3 separate regions of the Homo sapiens genome follow, and regions 1 and 3 are each linked to region 2. The links come from fine-mapping of genetic effects on plasma protein levels. A gene starts in region 2. Each other region holds a variant in brackets. All regions are shown on one strand. Distances are between the middles of the regions.

Region 1 (8,283 bases), 230 kb before region 2:
GAAGGTTGCACAGCGGCTGGGCAGAGGCGCTCCTCACATCCCAGATGGCGAAGCAGCTGGGCAGAGGCACTCCTCACTTCCCAGGCAGGGCAGGTTGCGCAGAGGCGCTCCTCACTTTCCAGACAGTGGGCAGCTGGGCAGAGGCGCTCCTCACTTCCCAGATGGGGTGGCAGCCGGTCAGAGATGCTCCTCAATTCCCAGACAGGGTGGAAGCTGGGCAGAGGTGCTCCTCACTTCCCAGACAGTGGGAAGCTGGGCAGCAGGGCAGCAGAGTTCCTCACATCCCAGATGGTGGGGCGGCCGGGCAGAGGCGCTCCTCACTTCCCAGACGGGGCATCCAGGCAGAGGCGCTCCTCACTTCCCAGATGGTTGGCAGCTGGGCAGAGGTGCTCTTCAATTCCCAGAGGGTGTGGCGGGCGGGCACAGGCGCTCCTCACTCCCCAGTCAGCTGGGCGGCTGGGCAGAGGTGCTCCTCACTTCCCAGAAGAGGTGGCTGGGCAGAGACACTACTCACTTCGCAGTCAGTTGGGTGGCGGGGCAGAGGCGCTCCTCACTTCCCAGATGGGGTGGTGGCTGGGCAGAGATGCTCTTCACTTGCTAGATGGGGCAGTGGCCGGGCAGAGGCTCTCCTCACTTCCCAGACACTGGGCAGCTGGGCAGAGGCGCTTCTCACTTCCTGCACGGTGGGCAGCTGGGCAGAGATGCTCCTCACATCCCAGATGGGGCGGCGGCGGGCAGAGGCCCTCCTCACATTCCAGATGGGGCGGCCGCCGGGAAGAGGGGCACCTCACTTCCTAGATGGGGTGGCAGCCCGGCAGAGGCACTACTCACTTCCCAGACGGGGCTGCAGCTGGGCAGAAACGCTCCTCACTTCCCAGATGGTGGGGCGGCTGGGCAGAGGTTCTTCTCACTTCCCAGACAGTGTGGGGGGGAGGGGAAGGGCAGAGGCGCTCCCTCACATCCCAGATGGTGGGGCGGCTGGGCAGAGGCACTCCTCTCTTCAATTTGGGGTGGAGAGTTCTGTAGATGTCTATTAGGTCCCCTTGGCCCAGAGCTGAGTTCAAGTCCTGAATATCCTTGTTAATTTTCCATCTCATTGATCCGTCTAATATTGAGAGTAGGGTGTTACAGTCTCCCACTATTATTGTGTGGGAGTCTAAGTCTCTCTGTAGGTCTCTAAGAACTTGTTTTTATGAATCTGGGTGCTCCTATATTGGGTGCATATATATTTATGATAGTTAGCTCTTCTTGTTGAATTGATATCTTTAGCATTATGTAATGCCCTTCTTTGTCTTTTTTTTATCTTTATTGGTTTAAACTCTGTTTTATCAGAGACTAGGATTGCAACCTCTGCATTTTTTTTTTCACTTTCCATTTGCTTGGTAAATTTTTTTCTCCATCCCTTTATTTTGAGCCTATGTGTTTCTTTGCACATGAGATGGGACTCCTGAATACAGCACACCAATGGGTCTTCACTCTTTATCCAATTTGCCAGTCTGTGTCTTTTAATTGGGACATTTAGCCCATTTATATTTAAGGTTCATGTTATGTGGAATTTGATCCCATCATCCTGATGCTAGCTGGTTATTTTGCACACTAGTTGATGCAGTTTCTTCATAGTGTCATTGGTCTTTATATTTTGGTGTGTTTTTGCAGTGGCTGGTACCAGGTTTTCCTTTCCATATTTAGTGATTCCTTCAGGAGCTCTTGCCAGGTAGGCCTGGTGGTGACAAAATCCCTCAGCATTTGCTTGTCTGTAAAGGATTTTATTTCTCCTTCATTTATGAAGCTTAGTTTGGCTGGTTATGAAATTCCAGGTTGAAAATTCTTTTCTTTAAGAATGTTGAATATTGGCCCCCACTCTCTTCTGGCTTATAGGGTTTTTGATGAGAGGTCCACTGTTAGTCTGATGGGATTCCCTTTGTAAATGACTTGGCCTTTCTCTCTGGCTGCCCTTAACATTTTTTCCTTCATTTCAACTTGGAGAATCTGATAATTATGTTTCTTTGGGTTGATCTTCTCACGGAGTATCTTAGTGGTGTTCTCTGTATTTCTTGAATTTGAATGTTGGTCTGTCTTGCTAGGTTGGGGAAGTTCTCCTGGATAATATCCTGAAGTGTGATTTCCAACTTGGTTCCATTCTCCCTGTCTCTTTCAGGTACTCCAATCAATCATAAGTTTGGTGTTTTTACACTGTCCCATATTTCTCAGAGTTTTAGTTCATTCCTTTTCATTCTTTTTTCTCTAATCTTGTCTGAATGCCTTATTTCAGCAAGATGGTCTTGAAACTCCAATTTTCTTCCGCTTGGTCAGTTTGGCTATTGATATTTGTGTATGCTTCACGAAGTTCTCATGCTGTGTTTTTCAGCTCCATCAAGCCATTTATGTTTCCCTCTAAACTGGTTAATCTAGTTAGCAGCTCCTATAACCTTTTATCAAGGTTCTGAGCTTCTTTGCATTGGATTAGAACATGCTCCTTTAGCTCAGTGGAGTTTGTTATTACACACCTTCTGAAGCCTACTTCTTTCAATTCATCCATCTCACCCTCCATCCAGTTCTGCGTGATTATTTGGAGAAGAGGCACTCTGGTCTTTTGGGTTTTCAGCATTTTTTCGTTTATTCTTTCTCATCTTCATGAGTTTGTCTAGTTTTGATCTTTGAGGCTGTTGACCCTTGGTTGGGATTTTTGTGGGGACTTTTTTTGTTTATGCTGTTGTTGCTTTCTGCTTGTTTGTTTGTTCGTTTTTCTTTAAATGGTCAGGTCCCTCTTCTGTAGGGCTGCTGCAGTTTGCTGGGGGTTCACTTCAGGCCTTCTTCATCTGGTTCGCTGTCATGCCTGAAGATGCCATTTGAGGAGGCTGGAGAACAGCAAAGATGGGTGCCTTCTCCTTCCTCCGGGATCTCTGACCTTGAGGGGCACCAACCTGATGCCAGTAGGAACACCACTGTATAGGGTGTCTGACAGCTCCTGTTGAAGGATCTCCCCCAATTGAATGGCACTGGGTGCAGGACCCATTTAATGAAGCACTTTGACTATCTCATGGTGCAGGGGGTGTGCCATGTTAGGGGGAAACCCACTAGTCTGGGCTGCCCAGATTCCTCAGAACTAGCAGGAGGAAAGACTAAGTCTGCTGGTCTGTGGAGACTATGGCCATCCTCTCCCCCTAGGGTCTCAGGCCCAGGGAGATCAGAGTTCTGTCCCTAAGCCCCTAGCTGGAGTTGTTGGAGTTCCTGCAGGGAGGCCCCACCCAGTGAGGAAGGATGAGTCAGGGTCAGGCCTGAGGAAGCATTCTGGTGGCAATCTGCCACAGCCAGTGTGTTGGGCTGCAGGGAATATCTCTTGGGACCAAGCAGTCCAGCCTCCTTGGCTTTTGCAGGGGAAAAGCACGGCCTGGAGCCATAGAGATGGCTGCCACCCTTCCCCTGCCCTGGAAGCTTAGTGTGTTAGGCAGCTAGCAGTCCCAGCGTTGGCTGCCAACCCTCCCCCAAGGAGCTCAGATGGTTTAGACAGCAGGCAGCCACAGCTGTGGTGATGCTGCCCCCCACCAAGGAACTCAGCAGGCTTAGGCAGATTGTAGCTGAGTGGCTGTTGAGAATCTGCGCAGCTCCATGGTTGGGACCCTAGGCCCTGGTGGCATGCGCTCACGAGTGGGATCTTCTGATCTGTGGGTTGCACAGTTCTGTGGAAAAAGCACGGTTTCCCAGACTGGGTAGCATGCTCTCTCACCGCCTCCCTTGGCGGGGGACTGGGGGCTCCCCTGCCCCGTGTGGCTCTCAGGTGGGCTGCCACACCACACTGGTCTTCTTTCCTCTCTGTGGGTCACACGAGCCACCTAGTCAGGCCTGATGACAGAACCTGGATACCTAGGTTGCCAGTGGGGAATTTGCACACTGTTTCGGTTCTTTTCAATGGGAGCCTACAATCGCTGCTTCTTCTAGTTGGCCATCTTGGCCCCGCACCTCCACCCCCCAACCCCCATTTGTTAGTTTTTTCATTCAACATCATGTTTCTACATCAATCCATGTTGCTGTGCATACACTTAATCTGTTATTATAAGCATTGCATAATACTTCATGGCATGCCTCTACCACATTTTACCTATCCACTGGCTCAGTCAAGTGCTCCCCACTGGGATTCTGCTACCTTCGGCCACCACAAATAGCACTCTCATGAACATCCTCACACATGTCTCCCCATGGTCTTATGTGAGGATTTTCCTGGATAATATACTCAAGAGCAGCATTGTTGGGTCATAGGATATATGTATATTAATATTTTAATGTGACTACATTAGTTATATGACCCTCAAGCCAGTGCAGCCTTTCTTGGCCACTGTTTCTTCAATTGCAACTCCCATGTAACATTTAAAATTCCCCCTTTCTTTTATATAGGCATACTATTTTTTAGCTTTTATACCACATTTTTACTCTGCCTTTTCTATGTTTAGCTACACAAATACTTACAACTTTGTTACAGTTACCTACAGTATTCAATATGACGATATGCTGTACAGGTTTGTAGCCTAGGAGTAATAGTTTATACCATAGAGCTTAGGTGTGTAGTAGGATATACCATCCAGGGTTGTGTAAGTACACTCTATGATGTT[C/A]ACAGAAAAACTAAATCACCTAATGACACATTTCTCTGAACATATCCCTGTCATTAAGTGATGCATGACTGTATGACTGTGTATTTTATATGTATATAGGTGTTTAAAGCATTAATGTTTATAAAACTGCTTTACAACCAACAACACAAATGAACAAAAATCCCAAAAGAAATATGATCAGACATGATTTTAGAAAGATTGCTCTGGATATTCCATGAAAATGCCTTATAAAGAGACAAGATGACTTAGGAAGCTACTGCAGGAGTTCTGATGAGAGAAAATGGTGGATTGGACTAGGGAGGTGGCAATGAGGATGGAGAGAAGTGAATGAATTAAGAAAAAGAAGATTTACAAAATAGAATTCACAGACTTGATGAGAGGATTGGCTGTGGGGAATGAAGGAGAGGAGGGCATCAATAATAACTCCAAGGTTTCTGCCTTGGATAGAATATCTGTGTCATTCACTAAGATGAGAAGCACAGGAGAAGCAAGTTGGGAAGAGCTGATGTGATATGCTCAATTTTGAACATGTTGATTGCCACATGCCTATGAGATAACCAAATAGGAAGGGATGTCAGAATAGAGGCCGGGGCTCAAGAAGTCCCAGTTTTACTGCTTAGTGACTATGATAACCTGGACAAGTCATATTGAGAACTGGAGCCTCAGTTTCCTCATCTGTAAAATGGAGTAACAAAACATTCATCTTTATTAGTGTTATTAAAGTTATCAAATGTAAAAGTTTATGTGAGAAGGTGCTTTGTAAATTCTAAAATCCATATAAGTGGTAATAATAAATATTTTCAAGGGGTATGAAATGGATGTGGGGAGAAAGGGAGATTTTCCAGGGACATTCAGGAATTCTTTGGCCTGCAGAGAGACTACAAAGCTCTGTCTGATTCATGGTGGCATCATCAGGCACATTCCAATCTCTGGGAAACTTATTCCTACAAAGAAATTATTTCCAGTGACTTGGTGTCATGGCAATTTAGCTGACTTGGGCCAGGATTGGAAGAATTGGAGGGAGGCTTCTAAATCCTGGCAGCAGGAAATTGGGATGAGGCCAATGCAAATGTGGCAGGCTGGGAAACATTTTTGCAGACAGAAAGCATTTTTTAAGATTTTTATTGTGGTAAAATATACATAATATAAAATTTACCATTGTAATTATTTTAAAGTGTACAGTTCAGCGGCATTAAGTACATACACATTGTTATGCAACCATCACTGCCATCCATCACCAGAACATTTTCATCATCCCAAATTGAATCTCTGTACCTGTCAAACAATAACTCCCCACTTTCCCCTACTCTTGACTCCTGACAGCCATAATTCTACTTTCTGTCTCTATGAGTTTGACTATTCTCAGTACCTCATATAAATGGAATCATATATTTGTGCCATTTCATTTGGCTTATTTCACTTAGCATAATGTTTTCAAGGTTCACCCATGTTGTAGCATGTATCAGGATTTCATTCCACAGAATTGCCATTCAACCCAGCAATCCCATCATTGGGTATATACCCAAAGGAATATAAATCATTCTGTCAAAAAGATACATGCACACATATGTTCATCACAGCACTATTCACAATAGCAAAGACATGGAATCAACCTAGGTACCCATCAGTGGTGGACTGGATAAAGAAAATATGGCATATATATACCATGGAGTACTATGCAGCCATAGAAAACAATGGAGTTATGTCCTTTGCAGGAACTGGAGGCCATAATCCTAAGCAAACCAACACAGGAACAGAAAACCAAATACCACATGTTCTCACTTATGAGTGGGTGCTAAACACTGAGTACACATGGACACAAAGAAGAGAATAATAGACACTAGGGCCTACTTGAGGGTGGAGGGTGGGAGGAGGGTGAGGATCTATAAACTACCTACCGGGTACTATGCTCCCTACCTGGGTGACAAAATAATACGTACACCAAACACCTGTGACACACAATTTACCCAGATAACAAACCTTCACATGTACCCTGGAACCTAAAAGTTTAAAAATAAATAAATAAATATGGTTTTATTATACACAGTTAATCAACATGGCAATATTTAGTGATTTATAGAAGGTGAGTTAAATCTTACCACTTTATTAGCTCATGGGAGGCCCTTTTACTTTTCCATACAATTCTGTTGCTGACTTTTTATTAATGAATTATTTGAATTTAATCGTAGGAGTGCTATTTTAACATATTCCTCTGGCCCTCAACACAATAAAGAAAAGTATTACCACAAAAAAGAATCTCATGCCTTATTAAGGCTAAACAATATTCCCTTGTATGTATGTACCACTGTTTATTATCTATTTGTCGATTGATGGACATTTGAGTTATTTGTACCTTTTAGCTATTGTGAATAATGCTCCTATGAGTAATGATGTACAGATATCTATTAAAGTCTCTGCTTTCAATTCTTTTGGATATGTACCTAGAAATGGAGTTGCTCGATCATATAATAATTATATGTTTCATTTTTTTTGAGGAACCACTGTACTGTTTTCCACAGTGGCTACACCATTTTACACTCCCACCAACATGTGCAAGGGTTCCACTTTCTCTATATCCTTCCCAACACTTGTTATCATCTGGATTTTTGTTTGTTTGTTTTAATAATTATAATAGCTAAATTAATGGGTATGAGGTGATGTCTCATTTTGGTTTTGATCTGCATTTCCCTAATGATTAGTGATGTTGAGCATTTTTTTCATGTGTTTTTTGGCCATCTGTATATCTTTTTTGGAGAAATGCCAATTCAAATTATTTGCCCATTTTTGAACTGGGTTGCTTGTTTCTTAGTTGTTGAATTGTAGGAGTTCCTTATATATCCTGGATACTAAACCCTTATCAGATATATGATTTACAAATATTTTCTTTCATTCCATGGAATGACTTTTCACTGTGTTAATAGTGTCCTTTGATTCACAAAATTTTTAGTTTTGAGGAAGTTCAATTTCTTTCTTTTTTCTTTTGTTGTCTGTGCTTTTGATGTATACACAAGAAGTCACTGCAAAATCCCATGTCATGAAACTTTTCCTCTATATTTTCTTCTGAGTTGTATAATTTTAGCTCTTATGTTTAGATCTTTAATCCATTTTAAGTTAATGTTTATATGCAGTATAAAATAAGCTCCATCTTTATTCTTTTGCATGTGAATATCCAGTTTTCCCACCACCAGTTGTTAAAGAGACTGTCCTTTTCCCATTGAGTGGTCTTGGCACCCTTGTTGAAATCATTTGACCATAGATGCATGAGTTTGTTTTTGGCCTCTTGATTCTATTCCAATGAATATGTCCATATGTCTGTCTTTATGCCAGTACCATACTGTTTTGATTACTATAGCTCTGTAGTAAACTTTGAAATCAGAAAGTCTGAGTCTTCCAATGTTGTTCCTCTTTTTCAAGGTTGTTTTGGCTATTCTAGGTCTCTAGAGATTCTACATAAATTTTAGGAGTGATTTTTCTATTTCTGTAAAATTATTGAGTTGCATTGAACCTGTAGATTGCTTTGGGAGAAAGAATTTTTGAGTCATTTTCAAAAGTGATGTTTCAGTTAAATCAACACTTGTGTTTCATTTGTTGCTTATAAAAAGCACACTCATGAGTAAAGAATTTAGGAAAGGCAAAATGATAATAATAATAATAAGTATCTGGAGAACAATGTTCT
Region 2 (8,283 bases):
AAAAAGGGGAACTAGAGCTTAGGCTTTTCCTTCAAATTTAGAGCAAGCATCTACCTCAGAGATGGCTGCAAGTGGCCCAAAGAAGGTAAGACCCACATTGTGCAAAGGCAGCAAGAACGGATATGTCGACCGTTACTCATAAATCTCCTAAACGTGGCAGCAAGGAGGGTTAATTATCCCCCCCGCCCCCACTTCCTGCCACTCTCTGCTTTCTCCAATGTGTTAGCCCATTACACGGATCGCTGACTTTCTAGAAATATTCCCTGGCTTTGCGGGGATGTTCTTTTCAATAAATGGCATCCAATTTGCTAACGGTCCCTGGAATCTCAATTTCCTCAAAACATTTTTCATCTGAGCCCAGTTCATAGGAAGGTTTCGTCCTTCCTCGTTTTTCGGCATAAGGGAATAGGCAGAGCCTGCTTTTCTTTTTCTTTTTTTTTCTTTTCTGTGTCATTATTTTTCATAAACTGAAAGCCTTTGCTGAAGAGTCTGAAATTTGGGAAAATTCCAGCTCATCTGTCAGATATTTCTAGAGTTACGTAAAATGTAATGAGATTTGTATAGTTTAGAACAGGGAAGAGAAAATAAGCTAATGTGTCATATGTTCTATGAGACAAAGACTACATGATAATCAGAAAAACAGCCCCAAATTTAGTTGGCCTGATTCAAAGCTCTCATTCTTTTATCAATTCATGCATAAACCAGTAACATTCACTTTCTTCTCTTAGAATAATGGCACGGCCACATTTGGGCTAAATCATAATTGCTACAGATTATAGCCACATTTTCAAAGAAATTATAAAAAGTGTATTATTTTCCAAATGCAAGACACTTACGTTTTACTTGCTCTGTTTTGCCTCCTTCTAGCAAAAGAAAGAACAACAACGAAAAGATGTATTTCATGCCTCCCATTTTCCACTTTTTTCTCATTTGGACCACTGCAAAAGGTGACAGAACCTTCAAGCTGTTGGGAAGAAAGCAGAAAAAAGACTTAACACAGATCTTCTGGAAATGATAGAGGTCACTGATGCTCAGGCTTCTAACCTGCTAGAATAAAAAAAAAATGTCCTAGAATTTACATAAGTGTAAGTATTGTCTGCCTGCACAAGATAAAGGACTTGCCTCTCCTGTCTTGCAAGGCTTGTGGGTGAAAATTCAAGTGAATGAGGGTGCATTCCTATCCAAAGCTGAGGCTAAGTCCTTACAGGCAAGTTATAGGAAAATGAAAATAAATTTTGAAATCTTCCTTTCTAAGGGAATTAAAGTTGATTTCTCAAGAGATTTTTTTGGGAGAAAAGGGAAACTTTAGCTTGCAAAAACGGTTATTTTAGCAAACAAGGTAAAAGTAACAAGCATGAGACCAAGCAATTTCTGAAATGAAAGTTAACTAATCTTAGCTTCAAGACTACTTTTAATCCTTTTGGAATGAAGTACAAATTGATCAGTTTCTCCTGTGTCCTCTATGAGATCTACAAGGATCTTTGGTTTGGCAACTAATATTGCAAAAGATAGATGTAATTAGCAAATGGATGCAATTAAACACCTGAAAAGTTTTACTGCTTAAAATGGTTCCAACATATTCCTCCCCCAAGAAGTCCATTGTAAAATGGAAATTTTAAATGGGCCATTTTTAGGGGAAATTGGGCAAATTAAATAGATAATTTGTTCACCTTGCACCACCATGCAAAAGACCATTAAAACAACTACAGTTCTTCAAAACATGAGATTGGCATTCCCAGTATAAGGGGTAGAAATCTTAAACCTTTTGAACCTTGGAACACAGAAAGTTTGCTGTAGCTCACATCTAGTCACGGATCATTTCCACAGATGTTAGAGTTTGCAAAATTCCTCCAATGGGTGATCTGAAAATATTGAAATGTTCTAAAAACACCAGATTCAATCTGAATGGGAAATGAACTCATTGATCTTTCCAGAAAGTCCAACCTAAATATTGCACATAAAGAACTTGAAGGAATGCAAAACGATCATTTTGGAGAGTTGAATATCTTTGGGCTCTGAAGTAGATGCTACAGCTCCTACTTAAATGCTATGAAGTTGCCTGGGTCATTCAAAATCCACTGTTTCAATTATGAATGCATAACCAAGGAAGAACTGATGATAGAGTAATCTGTGCTATCAAACAAGATTTGCAGCACCGTCTGCCTTCCTTCTTTACCTCCTCCCTGCTCCTTAAAGAACCAAATTCTCTCAGGACATGTTCCTACCCATCTAAAGACCTGAGTTCTGATGTCTTGGTCCCCTCTGTGAGTTTGTGGCCCACTTACAATCACTCAGAATGTTACTGTCCCTTGAGGGCTACCACGTTTATTCGAAACAAATCATTTTCATTAACAATTTAACACAGCTACCCACCTCAGTGAGGTTCTTCCTGAGCCTATTCTAATAAGTTTATTCCCCAAGCCTCCAAAAGAGAAAGATTTTTAACCACTGAAATCCAATTTATCACATTCATATATGGATTTCAACGGGTGTTTCTGAAACCATGGTTTTAGGGTCTCCCCATGCGAGAATCAACAGGGCTGCTTTTCTTGTATAATGGTTGGGCGATTCGGTGAACTGTAGCATTGCTTCATAACTCAAGTTGGCAAGAAAACAGCTCATAGATTTTTTTGCCTTTCTTAGGTCCCAACTAATATTATGAGCAAATAAAAAAGTTGGTAACTAGAGAGCAATTAATCTCCTTTGGCGTTCCTGTCATCTGTGTGGCCTCCCAGGCTGTGATGGAGAACATCAGAAAATGAATCGCTTTATAAATATTCACTTTTGATTTACAAGATCCTGAAGTCCTGCCTTTGTATTCTGTGCAGAAATATGAACCAAGAAGAGTTCCCTCCCCAGATCTCCTCACTGTTCAATTTCTCTTTATCTCTTCAGCTTTTTCTTTTAGGGAAGGGGGTGGTTCAAAACATGTGTTGGGACTGCAGCAGTAAACACTAGCAAGCATTGCTCAGCGAACTTAGCCGACTCTTATTCTTGCAAAGAGCCAAACTGTCCTTAATTTTTCAAATTATACTTTGACCCAGTTAACTGGAGTTATTTCTGCATTAACTCTCTGTCTGCTTCACACAGGCTGTTGTGCCATTGAACTTGCACTGGCTCTTTTACAGGTTACTTAGACATGTAGCCATTGACATGCTTCAGGGGATCCAGGACCCAACAAGAAAGCAACAACAACAACAAAAAAACAAAACCCTGCAACTAACACAGGTAGTGGAGGTGGGATGGGAGAGTTCCTGTGTTTTACAAGAGAAAGAGAAATGTATCAAGTACCAAAAGAAAGGTATTTATTAAGGTGCTTCCATGAAACAAGCATTCACATTGTTCATCTGCGTTAAGCAAAGGGACCAACTGCTCCTTGCCCAGCTGTGACTGCAAGGCAATCTGGGCCATCAAGTGTCAGGAGCCCACTTTCAGAACAGGTCTCCTGGGTAGAACAGAAGCAAAGAGACATCCCCACAGGAAGGCTAAGGGATGAACACATGTCAGCCAGTTCTTCACGCCCCACAGTGTCTCTTTAATCCTCCTGAGAGGCTTGACTGACCTTGTAATCTCACATTGACTATCATCTGTGGGACAGCCCCTAGGGTAGCAATTTTCTTTCCGACAAACAATAAGAAAGACACTGGAGTCCCAGGCCCTTGTCCATCAGCTGAAATCCTCTCCCCACTCTACCACCCAGCAAGAAAAGTTCAGTTAACTGGTGGTGTGTTGCCACTGAAAATGGCAGTTTTAACCCAGGGTATCTCTTGTTGGAGGAAATGCTTTCATTGCTGCTTATGACTGACAAACAATGCCTCGCATTTGGCTTGCAAAACACCTTTCTATCATTTCATTTCATTCCACACAACTCCACCTTCAAAATGGGCACTGGGGGGACCCAGAGAACTCAAATAACTTTAGTGGCAGGGCTGGGAGGGACTGGAAAGCAGGCTTTCCGGGCCCTATGTTCTGGCAATATACCACGTTGCTTCCAGAGCCTAGTGTCTCAAATTCTGACCCCCGTAGTCAGGGACAAAAAATGAGGCAGATGGCCAGAGGATAGGATAGGGAGCCTTTCGCCCATCTACCCTGCTACATTAACTTTACCATGTATTCATCAGCAAAATGAGAAAACAGGCTCAGGAATACAGGCAGTGATTAAGGGGACTGCAGAGTCCCTTGGGTAGCTCAGGGTGGAGTACCTAAGTGACCTCTCAAAGCGCCAGAGCATAAAGAAATGCAGGCCGAGTGGGGAGGGACGAGCTGTGAGTTCGAATTCAGAGACCCCCAACTTGCTTTGGTCAGAAGCCTTGGGCCCCACCTCCATCCAGGTTGCTAACTGCTGGAGCACAGAACAGGTTGGGGTGGCAGGGGAATTTGGGGCACCCTGGGGAAACTTCCAGGGACGGCTCCGGCCAAGAGAAGGCAACCCACCTGTGCAAAGGCTGGAAAAGGAGGTGAGGGAAGCGGGCGCCGGGCACTGCTCACTAACCTGGGCACTGGCCTTCTCCGTCTGCCACGCGTGCACGCGCTCCGAGCTCCCCGGGGCGCTCTCGTCCGAGGTCTGGGGCTGGCAGGTTGTGGCGAGAGCTAGAGTGCGCGCGAGGGGGGAGGGGGAACTCAAAAGTGGGTGGGAGGAAAAACATCACCGCCCTCACACCACGAGGGAGCAGCGGCTTGCTCGGCTCCCGGGGGCAGAGCCAAGGCGCGGGCGCGGCGGCCCGGGGCCACCTGCCCGCCCTCCCGCTCGCTCCCCACTTGGCCCGAGAAGCCGGCCGCTCGGCGCTGGCGGGAAGTCCGCAAGCACGCAGCCGCTGCAAGCACGCACACTTTCTCCACCCCGGCACAATGGCTTTATTTCTGCTCCCCCGGCCCGAAAGTTTAAAAATCGGGAGAAAGTGTGAGACTCAGCCGGCTACTTTCCCATCACACAGCGCCCCCACTGCAGCCCCCACTCCTTTGGCTAGGCGAGCGTTGGGGTCTTAAAGGGACCGCACAGCTCCTCCGGTCCCTCCTCCCCCTCTGCACTGGATGCACCTAGGAGCTCCCCACCACTCGCGCACGCCCTGAAGATACCGACTACCCTCTGACTCCCCTGCCTGGAAGCCCACACCCGCTCTCCTCCGGCACCAAGGCCTTTCCGAGGTGTGCACCTGGTCTGGTACTGAGCTGGTGCCCTGGACACAGAATGAACCCTCCTCGCAAATCACGCCCTAGCATGCTGCTTATCATTTCACGGCGTTTCCCATATCCACACTGTGGCTAACAGAGTGACAAAGCTTTGGTTTGGTGTCCTTAAAGGCGGGGTGGAGATGGGTGTGTGTAGGGTCAGGGATTAGAAATCCACTTTCTCTTACAAACTGGGCTCCCAAGCCTCATGGAAAGGGCCTGTTCTAACTGTTAAGTGTCTTGAAGAAAACTTGGTGCCACACACTATACCCACCATTTTTTTTTTAAATGAGTCCCTAAGCTTCTAAGTTGGGCCAAGAGCTCAACCTGGAAATCACAGTAGCACTGCTGATGCCTTGGTGGGCCTGCCTACTCCAAATTTGTGTTTATTCAACAAGTGATAGTTGCAAAGAATTGTCAGAAACTTCTAGGGTCCAGGAAAGTGCTGCCTCGACAGACAAAATTTTAAGCCCCTAAATTTGGAGAAGAACCGCAGAGCTTTTTTCTAGATGAACTAGATAAATATCTATATTCCTAACATCTGTATAGTACTTTATGGCTTACGGAGTGTTTTCACATACATCAACATTACTTTTTAAACCCTCAAAACCAACCGAACTACCTGAGGTCTCAAGTGTTAGAGTTGGTGGGGAACTTCTGAACCATTCAGCTTAACTTCATCATTTCACAGAAGAGGAAACTGAATTGGGGGAAGAGGATGATGTATCTAAGGTCACACAGCTAGTAAATGACAAATTTGAGATTCCAATCCAGATTCCCTGACTTTCAACCCACTACTCTCTGGTTGTTATCTCCAGTCTGTAGATGAGGAAATTGATGTTCAGAGAAACTGTGGCTTGTCAAAAAAACAAACAAACAAACAAACAAACCACTTATCAGGAACAGAAAACAAAGAAAAATTAAAACAAGAATAATTGTCCCTGAACGTTACCTCCTTTTGCTTTTTCAGAAGTGTTAATAGTATCCAGCTAGCCCCTGCATTGCTGGTGATGTTTATTTCACTGTTAACAAAGGAAAGGGGGCCCTTTCTGTAATGTTGCCTTCAGGGCCCAAAATGTCTAGCTCCGTCCTGCTGCCTGGGTAGCCATACACTGCCACATGCATTCAATTTGTGCTGTTGTATATCGGTTTGAACTTGCTGATTTGTTGCCTTATAACTGTTCTCATGCCGTTTAATGCAGTGATGTTTTGTCTTACTAGATTGTGAGTTCTTCAAGGGCAAGGACTGGTTGTTCAATTTCTCTTGTGCGTGCATTACCCAACTCCCATCATTACTTCCAACATGCTTACAGAGTATTCTGGAAAATGAGTTTCAAGGGATAGTCTGAGACAAACATAAATTCTAGCATTTAAAATAAATAGACTCACTGGGATTTAAAAGTTCATCTATTTGGCTACAACCACTCACTCCCTTGCTTGGTGTAGAATCCTAATTACTGCATAACAAACCATCCGAAAACCTAGTGGCTTAAAGCAAGCAATTATTCTCAATTGGTTCTATTGAGTTGATTCTATTGAACTTGCTTAAGATCTCTTATGCAGTTGCAGGCAACTGTATATGGGGCTGCTGGAATTCTCTGACAGGTTTTTCATTAGTGTAAATGTTAGTCATCCTTGTATTTTGTATTAGTTCCAATCTTGATTTCTGAATTGAGAACTCCCATTTGGGTGAGTCCTAATCTAGACATCCTACCAGGTCTTATAGAAACTTAAGTGATGATTACCTTCATGCTTTATTTTCTCTGTTTATTAAATAGGGATGAGAGCATAATCTCATACTCATTTTTTAAAAAGTTTTATTTTAAGATAATGGTAGATTTACATGCAGTTGTAAGAAATAATTCAGAAAGATCTCAAATACCCTTCACCTAGTTTTCCCCAATGATAACATCATTCATAAATATAGTACAATGTCACAACAGGACACTGACATTGGTACAATCCATTCATCTTACTCTGATTTCACCAGTTTTATATGCACTCATTTGCCTGTGTATATAATTCTATGCAATTTTATCGCATGTGTATATTCATGTGACCACCACCACAGTAAAAATATAAAACAGCGCCATTACCACAAGGATACCCTGTATTACACTTTAATAGTCACACCCATCTTTTCCCTTCCTCCTCTCCCTACTCCCTGTCAACTACTAAACTAAATTGTCCTACATCTCTATAATTTTGTCATTTAAGAATGTTACGTGGAATCATACGGTATGCAACCTTTTGAGATAGTCTCTTCTCTCTTCTCCCCCAACCCTGATATAATTCTCTGGAGACCCATTCAAGTTGTTCCTGGTATCAATAGTTTGTTCCTTTTCATTGCTGAGTGGTATTCCATGGTAGGGATATATCACAATTTGTTTAAACCATTCATCTATTGGAGGGTTGAGTCTAGATTTCGGTTACAACTGCTATGAACATTTGTCTACAGGTATTTGAATAAGCGTAAGTGTTCATTTCTCTGGGATAAATACCCAACAATGTAGTTCCTGGGTTGTATGGTAAATGCATGTTTAGTTTTGTAAGGACTGTCATACTGTTTTTAGAGCAACTGTACTATTTTATATTCCCACCAGAAATGTGTGAGAGATCCAGTTTATCTGCATTCTTGCCAGCATTTTTTGTTGTCATTATTTTTTATTTTAGCCATTCTGGTAGGTATATAGTGATATCTCATTGTGGTTTTAACTTGCATTTCCCTAAAACCTAATGATATCTACCATCTTTTCATTGTTTATTTGACACCTGTATATCTTATCACAAATATTTTATCCCAGTCTGTAGCTTTTCTTTTCATCCTCTTCCCTTGAACTTCCACAAAACAAAATTTTTTAATGTTTTATGTCCAATGTATCAAATTTCTGTCATATAGGTCATGTTTTGGCATTAAGTTTAAGAACCCTTTACCTAGCTCTAGATCCTGAATATTTTCTTCTATATTTTTGTTTTAAAAGTGTTATAAAGTTTTACATTTAATTATGATCTATTTTGAGTTAATTTTTATAAAAGGTATAAGGTTTAGGTTGATGTTCATATTTTGCCTATATATTTTTGTCCAATTGCTCCAGTATCATTTGTTGAAAAAGC
Region 3 (8,283 bases), 310 kb before region 2:
TATAAATATTGGTGTACAAATATCTTATTAGTCCATGCTTTTAATTATTTTGGAGATATATCCAGAAGTGGAATTGCTGAATCATATGGTAATTCTATGTTTAACTTTTTGAGGAAACACCATGCTGGTTTCCATAGTGGATACACCATTCTACATTCCCACCAGCAATGCACAAGGATTTCAATTTTTTCACATCATTACCAACACTTGTTATTTTCTTTTTTTTTTTTAAATAGCCATCCTAATGTATATGAAATGGTACCTTCATATCATTTCAATTTACAATTTTCTAATAATTACTGGTGTTGAGTATATTTTCATGGTTCACTGACCATCTGTATAACTTCTTTGGAGAAATATCTATTCAAATCCTTTGCCTAGTTTTAAATTGGGTTGTCTTTTGTTGTTGTTGAATTTCAGGTTTCTTTACATATTCTGGATATTAACTTCTTATCAGACATGTGATTTGCAAATATTTTCTTCCATTCACTGGTTTGTGTTTTCATTCTGTTGATAATGACATTTGAGGCACAAACGTTTTTAATTTTAATAAAGTCTGATTTATTAATTTTTTGTTTTGTTGCCTGTGTTTTTGGTGTCATAGCCAATAAATCATTACCAATCCAATGTCATGTAGCTTTTCCCCTGTGTTTTCTTCTAACTTTTGTAAGGTAAGTGTCTAACTTTGTTCTTTCATATGTAGATATCCAAATTTCCAATACCATTTGTTGAAGAAACTTTCCTTTCCCCCATTGAATGATCCTGGCACTTTTCTAGAAAATCTTTTGATCATATATTCTAGGACTTATTTCTGGGGACTCTATTTTATTCCACTGGTCTATATGTCTGTCTTTGTTCCAATACCACATTATTTTTATTATTATAGCTTTGTAGTAAGTTTTTAAATCAGGAAATATGAGACCTCCAACTTTGTTCTTCTTTTTCAAGATTGTCTTGACTATTCAGGGTTTCTTGAGATACCATATAAAAATTTTAGAATGGGTTTTTCTATTTCCGCAAAAAAAAATACTTGGGATATTTATAGGGATGGCATTGAATGTATAGGTTGCTTTGGGAAGCATTAATATCTTTTTTTTTTTTTTTTGAGACAGAGTCTCGCTCTTTTGCCCAGGGTGGAGTGCAGTGGCGCAATGTTGGCTCACTGCAACCTCCACTTCCCTGCATCCCAGGTTCAAGAGATTCTTTTGCCTCAGCCTCCTGAATAGCTGGGATTACAGGCACACACCACCATACACGGTGAATTTTTGTATTATTAGTAGAGATGGGGTTTCACCATGTTGGCCAGGCTGGTCTCGAGCTCCTAACCTCAGGTAATCCTCCTGCCATGGCCTCCCAAAAGTGTTGGGATTACAGGCATGTGCAAGTATGTTTTTCGTACAATGACTTATTTTCTTCTGGGTGGATACCTAGTAGTGGGATTGCTGGATTAAATGGTAGATCTACTTTTAGTTCTTTAAGGAATCTCCACATTGTTTTCCATAGTGCTTGTACTAGTTTACCTTCCCACGAACAGTATAAAAGTGTTCCCTTTTCACCACATCCACACCAACATCTATTATTTTTTTATTTTTTTGATTATGGCCATTCTTGCAGGAGGGAGGTGGTGTGGCATTGTGGTTTTGATTTGCATTTCCCTGATAATTAGTTGAGCATTTTCCCATATGCATGTTGACCATTTGTATATCTTCTTTTGAGAATTGGCTATCCATGTCCTTAGACTATTTTTTAATTGGAATTTTTGATTTGTTTTGTTTTTGCTGATTTGTTTGAGTTCTTTGTAGATTCTGGATATTAGTCCTTTGTTGGATATGTAGATTGTGAAGATTTTCTCCCATTCTGTGGGCTGTCTGTTAACTCTGTTGATTATTTATTTTGCTGTGCAGAAACTTTTTAGTTTAATCGAGTCCCATCTATTTATCTTCGTTTTTGTTGCATTTGCTTTTGGGTTCTTGGTCATGAAGTCTTTGTCTAAGCGAATGTCTAGAAGGGTTTTGCTGATGTTATCTTCTGGTATGGTTTCAGGTCTTATATTTGAGTCTTTGATCCATCTTGGGTTGATTTTTCTATAAAGTAAGAGAGGATGATCCAGTTTCATTCTCCTACATGTGGCTTGCCAGTTATCCCAGTACCATTTGTTGAATAGAGTGTCCTTTCCCCACTTCATGTTTTTGTTTGCTTTGTCGAAGATCAGTTGGCTGTAAGTATTTAGCTTTGTTTCTGGGTTCTGTATTATGTTCCATTGGGCTATGTGCCTATTTTTATACCAGTACTATGCTGTTTTGGTGACTATGGCCTTATAATATAGTTTGAAGTTGGGTAATGTGATACCTCTCGATTTGTTCCTTTGCTTAGTCTTGCTTCAGGTATGCAGGCTCTTTTTTGGTTCCATATGAATTTTAGGATTGCTTCTTCTAGTTCTGTGAAGAATGATGGTATTTTGATGGGAACTGCATTGAATTTGTATATTGCTTTTGGCAGTATAGTCATTTTCACAATATTGATTCTACTCATCCATGGGATGTGTTTCCATTTGTTTGCGTCGTCCATGATTTCTTTCAGCAGAGTTTTTTAGTTTTCCTTGTAGAGATCTTTCACCTCCTTGGTTAGGCATATTCCTAAGTATTTTCTTTTCTTTTTGCAACTATTGGGAAAGGGGTTGACTTCTTGCTTGATTCTCAGCTTGGTCGCTGTTGGTGTGTAGTAGAGCTACTGATTTGTGTACATTAACTTTGTATCCTGAAACTTTGCTGAATTCATTGACCAGCTCTAGGAGCTTTTTGGATGAGTCTTTAGGGTTTTCTAGGTATACAATCATGTCATCAGCAAACAGTGACAGTTTGACTTCCTCTTTACTGATTTGGATGGCCTTTATTTCTTTCTGTTGTCTGACTGCTCTGGTTAGGACTTACAGTACTATTTTGAATGGAAGTGGTGAAAGTGGGCATCCTTGTCTTGCTTCATTTCTCAGGGGCAATTCTTTCAACTTTTTCCCATTCAGTATAATGTTGGCTGTGGGTTTGTCATAGATGGCTTTTATTACCTTAAGATAAGTCCCTTCTATGCTAATTTTGCTGACTGTTTTCATCATAAAGGGATGCTGGATTTTGTCAAATGTCTTTTCTGTGTCTATGGAATGATCATGTGATTTTTGTTTTTAATTCTGCTTATGTGATGTATCACATTTATTGACTTACATATGTTAAATCATCCCTGCATCCCTGGTATGAAACCCACTTGATGATGGCGGGTTATCTTTTTGATATGCTGTTGGACTCGGCTCACTAGTATTTTGTTGTGCATTTTTGCATCTTTATTCGTCAGGTATATTGGTCTGTAGTTTCCTTTTTTTGTCACATCCTCCCCTGGTTTTGGTGTTAGGGTGATACTGGCTTCATAGAATGATTTAGGGAGGATTCCCTATTTCTCTATCTTTTAGAATAGTTGTCAATAAGATTGGTATCAATACTTATTTGAATGTCTGATAGAATTCAGCTGTAAATCCATCTGGTCCTGGACTTTTTGTTGTTGGCAATTTTTAAATTACCATTTCAATCTTGTTGCTTGTTATTGGTCTGTTCAGAGATTCTATATCTTCCTGGATTAATCTAGGAAGATTGTATATTTCCAGGAGTTTATCCATCTCCTCTAGGTTTTCTAGTTTATGAGCATCCAGGTGTTCACAGTAGCCTCGAATAATCTTCTGTATTTCTGTGGTATCAGTTGTAATATCTCCTGTTTCATTTCTAATCCAGTTTATGTGGATCTTCAATCTTCTTTTCTTGGTTAATCTCGCTAATGGTCCATCAATTTTGTTCATCTTTTCAAAGAACCATCTTTTTGTTTCATTTATCTTTTGTATTTTTTTGTTTCAATTTCATTTAGTTCTGCTCTGATCTTTGTTATTTCTTTTCTTCCGCTGGGTTTGAGTTTGGATTGTTCTTGTTTCTCCAGTTCCATGAGATATGACCTTAGATTGTCTATTTGTGCTTTCAGACTTTTTGATGAAGGCGTTTAATGCTATAAACTACACTTTTAGCACCGCTTTTGCTGTATCCCAGAGTTTTGATACGTTGTGTCACTATTATCATTCAGTTCAAAGAATTTTTTAAATTTCCATCTTGATTTTATTGTTGACCCAGTGATCATTCAGGAGCAGGTTACTTAATTTCCATGTATTTGCATGGTTTTGAGGCTTCCTTCTGGAGTTGATATCAAATTTTATTCCACCGTGGTCTGAGTATTTGATATAATTTTGATTTTCTTAAATTTACTGAGACTTGTTTTGTGGCCTATCATATGGTCTATCTTGGAGAATGTTCCATGTGCTGATGAATAGAATGTATATTTTGCAGTTGTTGGATAGAATGTTCTGTAAATATCTGTTAAGTCAATTTGTTCTAGGGTATATTTTAAATCCATAGTTTCTTTGTTTACTTTATGTCTTGATAACCTGTCTAGTGCTGTCAGTGGAGTATTGAAGTCCCCCACTATTATTGTGTTGTCATCAATTTCATTTCTTAGGTCTAGTGGTAATTGTTTTATAAATTCGGGAGCTCCAGCGTTAGGTGCATA[T/C]ATATTTAGAACTGTGATATTTTCCTGTTGGAATAGTCCTTTTATCATTATATAATGCCCCTCTTTGTCTTTTTAAACTGCCATTGCTTTAAAGTTTGTTTTGTCTGATGTAAGAATAGCTACTCCTGCTCGCTTTTGGTGTCCCCTTTACCTTAAGTTTATATGAGTTCTTATGTGTTAGGTGAGTCTCCTGAAGACAGTAGAAACTTGGTTGGTGAATTCTTACCCATTCTGCCAATCTGTATTTTTAAAGTGAAGCATTTAGGCTGTTTATATTCAATGTTAGTATTACTTTTTTTTTATTGAGATGGAGTCTTGCTCTGTTGCCCAGGTTGGAGTGCAGTGGTGTAATCTTGGCTCACTGCCAACCTCTGCCACCCGGGTTCAAACAATTCTCGTGCCTCAGCCTCCCAAGTAGCTGGGACTACAGGCACGTGCCACCATACCAGGCTAATTTTTTTTGTATTTTTATTAGAGACGGGGGTTTCACCATGTTGGCCAGGCTGATCTTGAACTCTTGACTTCAGGTGATCTGCCTGCCTCGGCCTCCCAAAGTTCTGGGATTACAGGCATGAGCCTCAATGTTAGTATTGAGATGTGAGGTACTATTCTATTCATCATGTTAGTCATTGCCTGAATACCTTGGTGGTTTTTTTTTTTTTCAGCTAGTCCTGCCTCCTATCTGCCATCTTAATCCCCTCTGATATCTTAATGATATTGAGTCTTCCAATTGTGAACATGGGATGGGATGGGATGGGATATCTTTCCAATTTTGGTGTTTTTTTTCATTGTTTTTGTTTTATAGGTCCTGTGAGATTTATGCTTTAAGGAGGTTCTATTTTGGTGTATTTCGAGGAATTCTTTCAAGATTTAGAGCTCCTTTTAGCAGTTCTTGTAGTGCTGGCCTGGTATTGGTGAATTTGCTCAGCATTTGTTTGTCTGGAAAAGACTATCTTTCCTTCATTTATGAAGCTTAGTTTCGCTGGATACAGAATTCTTGGCTGATAGTTGTTTTGTTTAAGGAGGCTAAAAACAGGACCCCAATCTTTTCTAGCTTGAATGGTTTCTGCTGAGAAATCTGTTAATCTGATAGGTTTTCCTTTATAGGTTATGTGATGCTTTTGCCTCACAGCCCTTAAGATTCTTTCCTTTGTCTTGACTTTAGATAACCTGATGTGCCTAGGTGTGCCTAGGTGATGATCTTTTTGTGATTAATTTCTCAGGTGTTCTTTGAACTTCTTGTATTTGGATGTCTAGATCTCTAGCAAGGCTGGGGAAGTTTTCCTCAATTATTCCCTCAAATATGTTTTTCAAACTTTTATATTTCTCTTCTTCTTTGGGAACACCAATTATTCTTAATTTTGGATATTTAAGATAGTCCCAAACTTCTTTAAGGTTTCATTCTTTTTAAAAAATTCTTTTCTCTTCATCTTTGATGGATTGGGTTAATTCAAAAGCCTTGTCTTTGAGCTCTGAAGTTTTTCTTCTGCTTGTTCCATTCTATTGCTGAGACTTTCCAGTGCATTTTGCATTTCTCTAAGTGTGTCCTTGATTTCCAGAAGTTGTGATTGTGTTTTATTTATGCCACCTACTTCACTGAATAATTTTCCTTTCATATTCTGTATCATATTTTTTATTTCTTTAGGTTGGACTTTACGTTTCTCTGGTGCCTCCTAGATTAGCTTAATAATCAACCTTCTGATTTCTTTTTCTGGCAATTCAGAGATTTTGTCTTGGTTTGGGTCCATTGCTGGTGAGCTGATATGATCTTTTGGGTTGGAGGGGGCGGTTTAAAGAATCTCGTTTTGTTATATTACCAGAATTGTTTTTCTGGTTCCTTTTCATTTGGGTAGACTATGTCAGAGGGAAGAGCTAGGATTCAAGGGGTGCTATTCAGATTCTTTTGTCCCACGGGGTGCTCCATTGATGTAGTGCTAACCCCCTTCCCCTAGGGATGTGGCTTCCTGAGAGCTGAACTGTAGTGATTGTTTTGCTCTTCTGGGTCTAGCCACCCAGCAGAGCTCCTGGGCTCCAGGCTGGTACTGGGGAGTGTCTGCAAAGAGTCCTGTGATGTGATCCATCTTCAGGTCTTGCAGCCATGGATACCAGCACCTGCTCCACTGGAGGTAGCAGGGGAGTGAAGTGGACTCTGTGAGGGTCCTTGCTTGTGTTTTTGTTCAGTGCACTGGTTTTGTGTAGGTTGGCCTCCAGCCAGGAGGTAGGCATTTCAAGAGTGCATCAGTTGTGGTCCTATAGGGAGGAGGCAAACTTGCCCTAGGGATACCTGGTTAAGCATTCAGGTTTCTCAGGTGGTGGGCAGGGTCAAAGAGCTCCCAAGAGATTATGACTTTTGTCTTTGGCTACCAGGGCAGGTATAGAAAGACCACCAGGTGGGGGCAGGGATAGGCATGTCTGAACTCAGCCTCTCTTTGGGCTGGGCTTCCTGCAGCTGCTGTGGGGCTGGGCTTCCTGCAGCTGCTGTGGAGAATGGGGGTGAGTTTCCTAATCCAATGGAGTTATGCTCCCAGGGGGATTATGGCTGTCTCTGCCGAGTCATACAGGTTGCCAGGGAAGTGGGGGAAAGCCGGCAGTCACAGTCCTCATCCCACTCCCATGCAGCTCACAGTCCTAAAGTCCAGTCTCACTCCTACTGTGCCCCCTCAACAGCACTGAGTTTATTTCCAGGCAGCTGGTGACCAGGGCTGAGAACTTGCCCCAGACCACCAGCCTGCCCGCTGAGAAAGCAAGCAGATTTACAGGTTTTTGGCATCTCAGGGAGCCTGCAGCGGTGATCCTGTCCTTAAAAGGGTCTGTGGATTATCTCGGCTTTTCTGGTATGTTCCTGTGGTAGTTCTTGGAGCAAAAGTTAATGATGTTAGTCTGCACACACTGCTCTCTCTGTCCAGGTGGGGGCTGCAAGCTAGTCCTGCCTCCTATCCGCCATCTTAATCCCCCTGATATCTTAACGATATTGAGTCTTCCAATTGTGACCATGGGATGGGATGTCTTTCCGATTTTGGGGGTTTTAAAAATTATTTTTCAGCAATATTTTGCAGTTTTCACTGAACAAGTGTTTCACCTCTTTGGTTAAGTTTATTCCTAAGTATTTTATTCTTTTTGATGCAATTGTAAATGAATTGTTTTCTTAATTTTCTTTTCTAATCTTTTCTTTTCTAATCGTTCATTGTTAAAGCAACTAATTTTTCTGTGTTGATTTTGTGTCCTGCAACTTTGTTGAATTAGTTTATTAGTTCTAACAGTTTCCTTGTGAAATCTTTAGTATTTTCTGCACATAAGATCATGTTATTTTAGAAAAAAATAATTTTATTTTTCTCTTTTCAATTTGGATAGCTTTCATTTCTCCCTTTTCTTTTCTTCTTTCTTTCTTGCTTTCTCTCTTTCTTGCTCTTTCTTTCTTTCTTTTCTCTCTTTCTTTCTTTCTTTTCTTTCTTTCTTTCTTTTCTTTCTTTCTTTCTTTCTTTCTTTCTTTCTTTCTTTCTTTCTTTCTTTCTTTCTTTCTTTCTTTCTTCCTTCCTTCCTTCCTTCCTTCCTTCCTTCCTTCCTTCCTTTCTTTTCTTTCTTTCTCTCTCTCTCTCTCTCTCTCTCTTTCTTTCTTTCTTTCTCTCTTTCTTCCTTGCTTAATTGCTCTGGCTGGGACTTTCAATACTATGTTAAATAAAAGTGATGAGA

Which allele goes with the higher level. Alleles are on the strand shown, and positions count from the first base shown. The strength of an association depends on the size of the effect and on how common the allele is.
For the plasma level of the protein whose gene starts at base 4,566 in region 2, allele A in region 1 goes with a higher level than allele C (weak association).
For the plasma level of the protein whose gene starts at base 4,566 in region 2, T is the high allele of the variant in region 3 and C is the other (moderate association).

What was found. PIP is the posterior inclusion probability: the model's chance that the variant is causal. The UK Biobank Pharma Proteomics Project read protein levels with antibody pairs (Olink). The fine-mapping took linkage between variants from a reference panel, not from the people measured, so its PIPs are less certain.
Region 1: its variant is fine-mapped to the plasma level of the CHRDL1 protein (UK Biobank, PIP 0.95).
Region 3: its variant is fine-mapped to the plasma level of the CHRDL1 protein (UK Biobank, PIP above 0.99).

Annotation. Positions count from the first base shown.
Region 1 is chrX:110,557,903-110,566,185 of GRCh38, forward strand. No RefSeq gene overlaps it. Among named protein-coding and RNA genes, the nearest start is that of CRIPTO3, 41 kb to the left of the region's middle. The variant C/A (reference allele first, on the strand shown) is at 4,608.
Region 2 is chrX:110,791,252-110,799,534 of GRCh38, forward strand. CHRDL1 (chordin like 1) reads right to left here and starts at 4,566. Exons shown (of 12, transcript NM_001143981.2): 1 at 4,493-4,566; 2 at 837-964. The coding sequence starts at 930.
Region 3 is chrX:110,484,944-110,493,226 of GRCh38, forward strand. No RefSeq gene overlaps it. Among named protein-coding and RNA genes, the nearest start is that of CRIPTO3, 32 kb to the right of the region's middle. The variant T/C (reference allele first, on the strand shown) is at 4,594.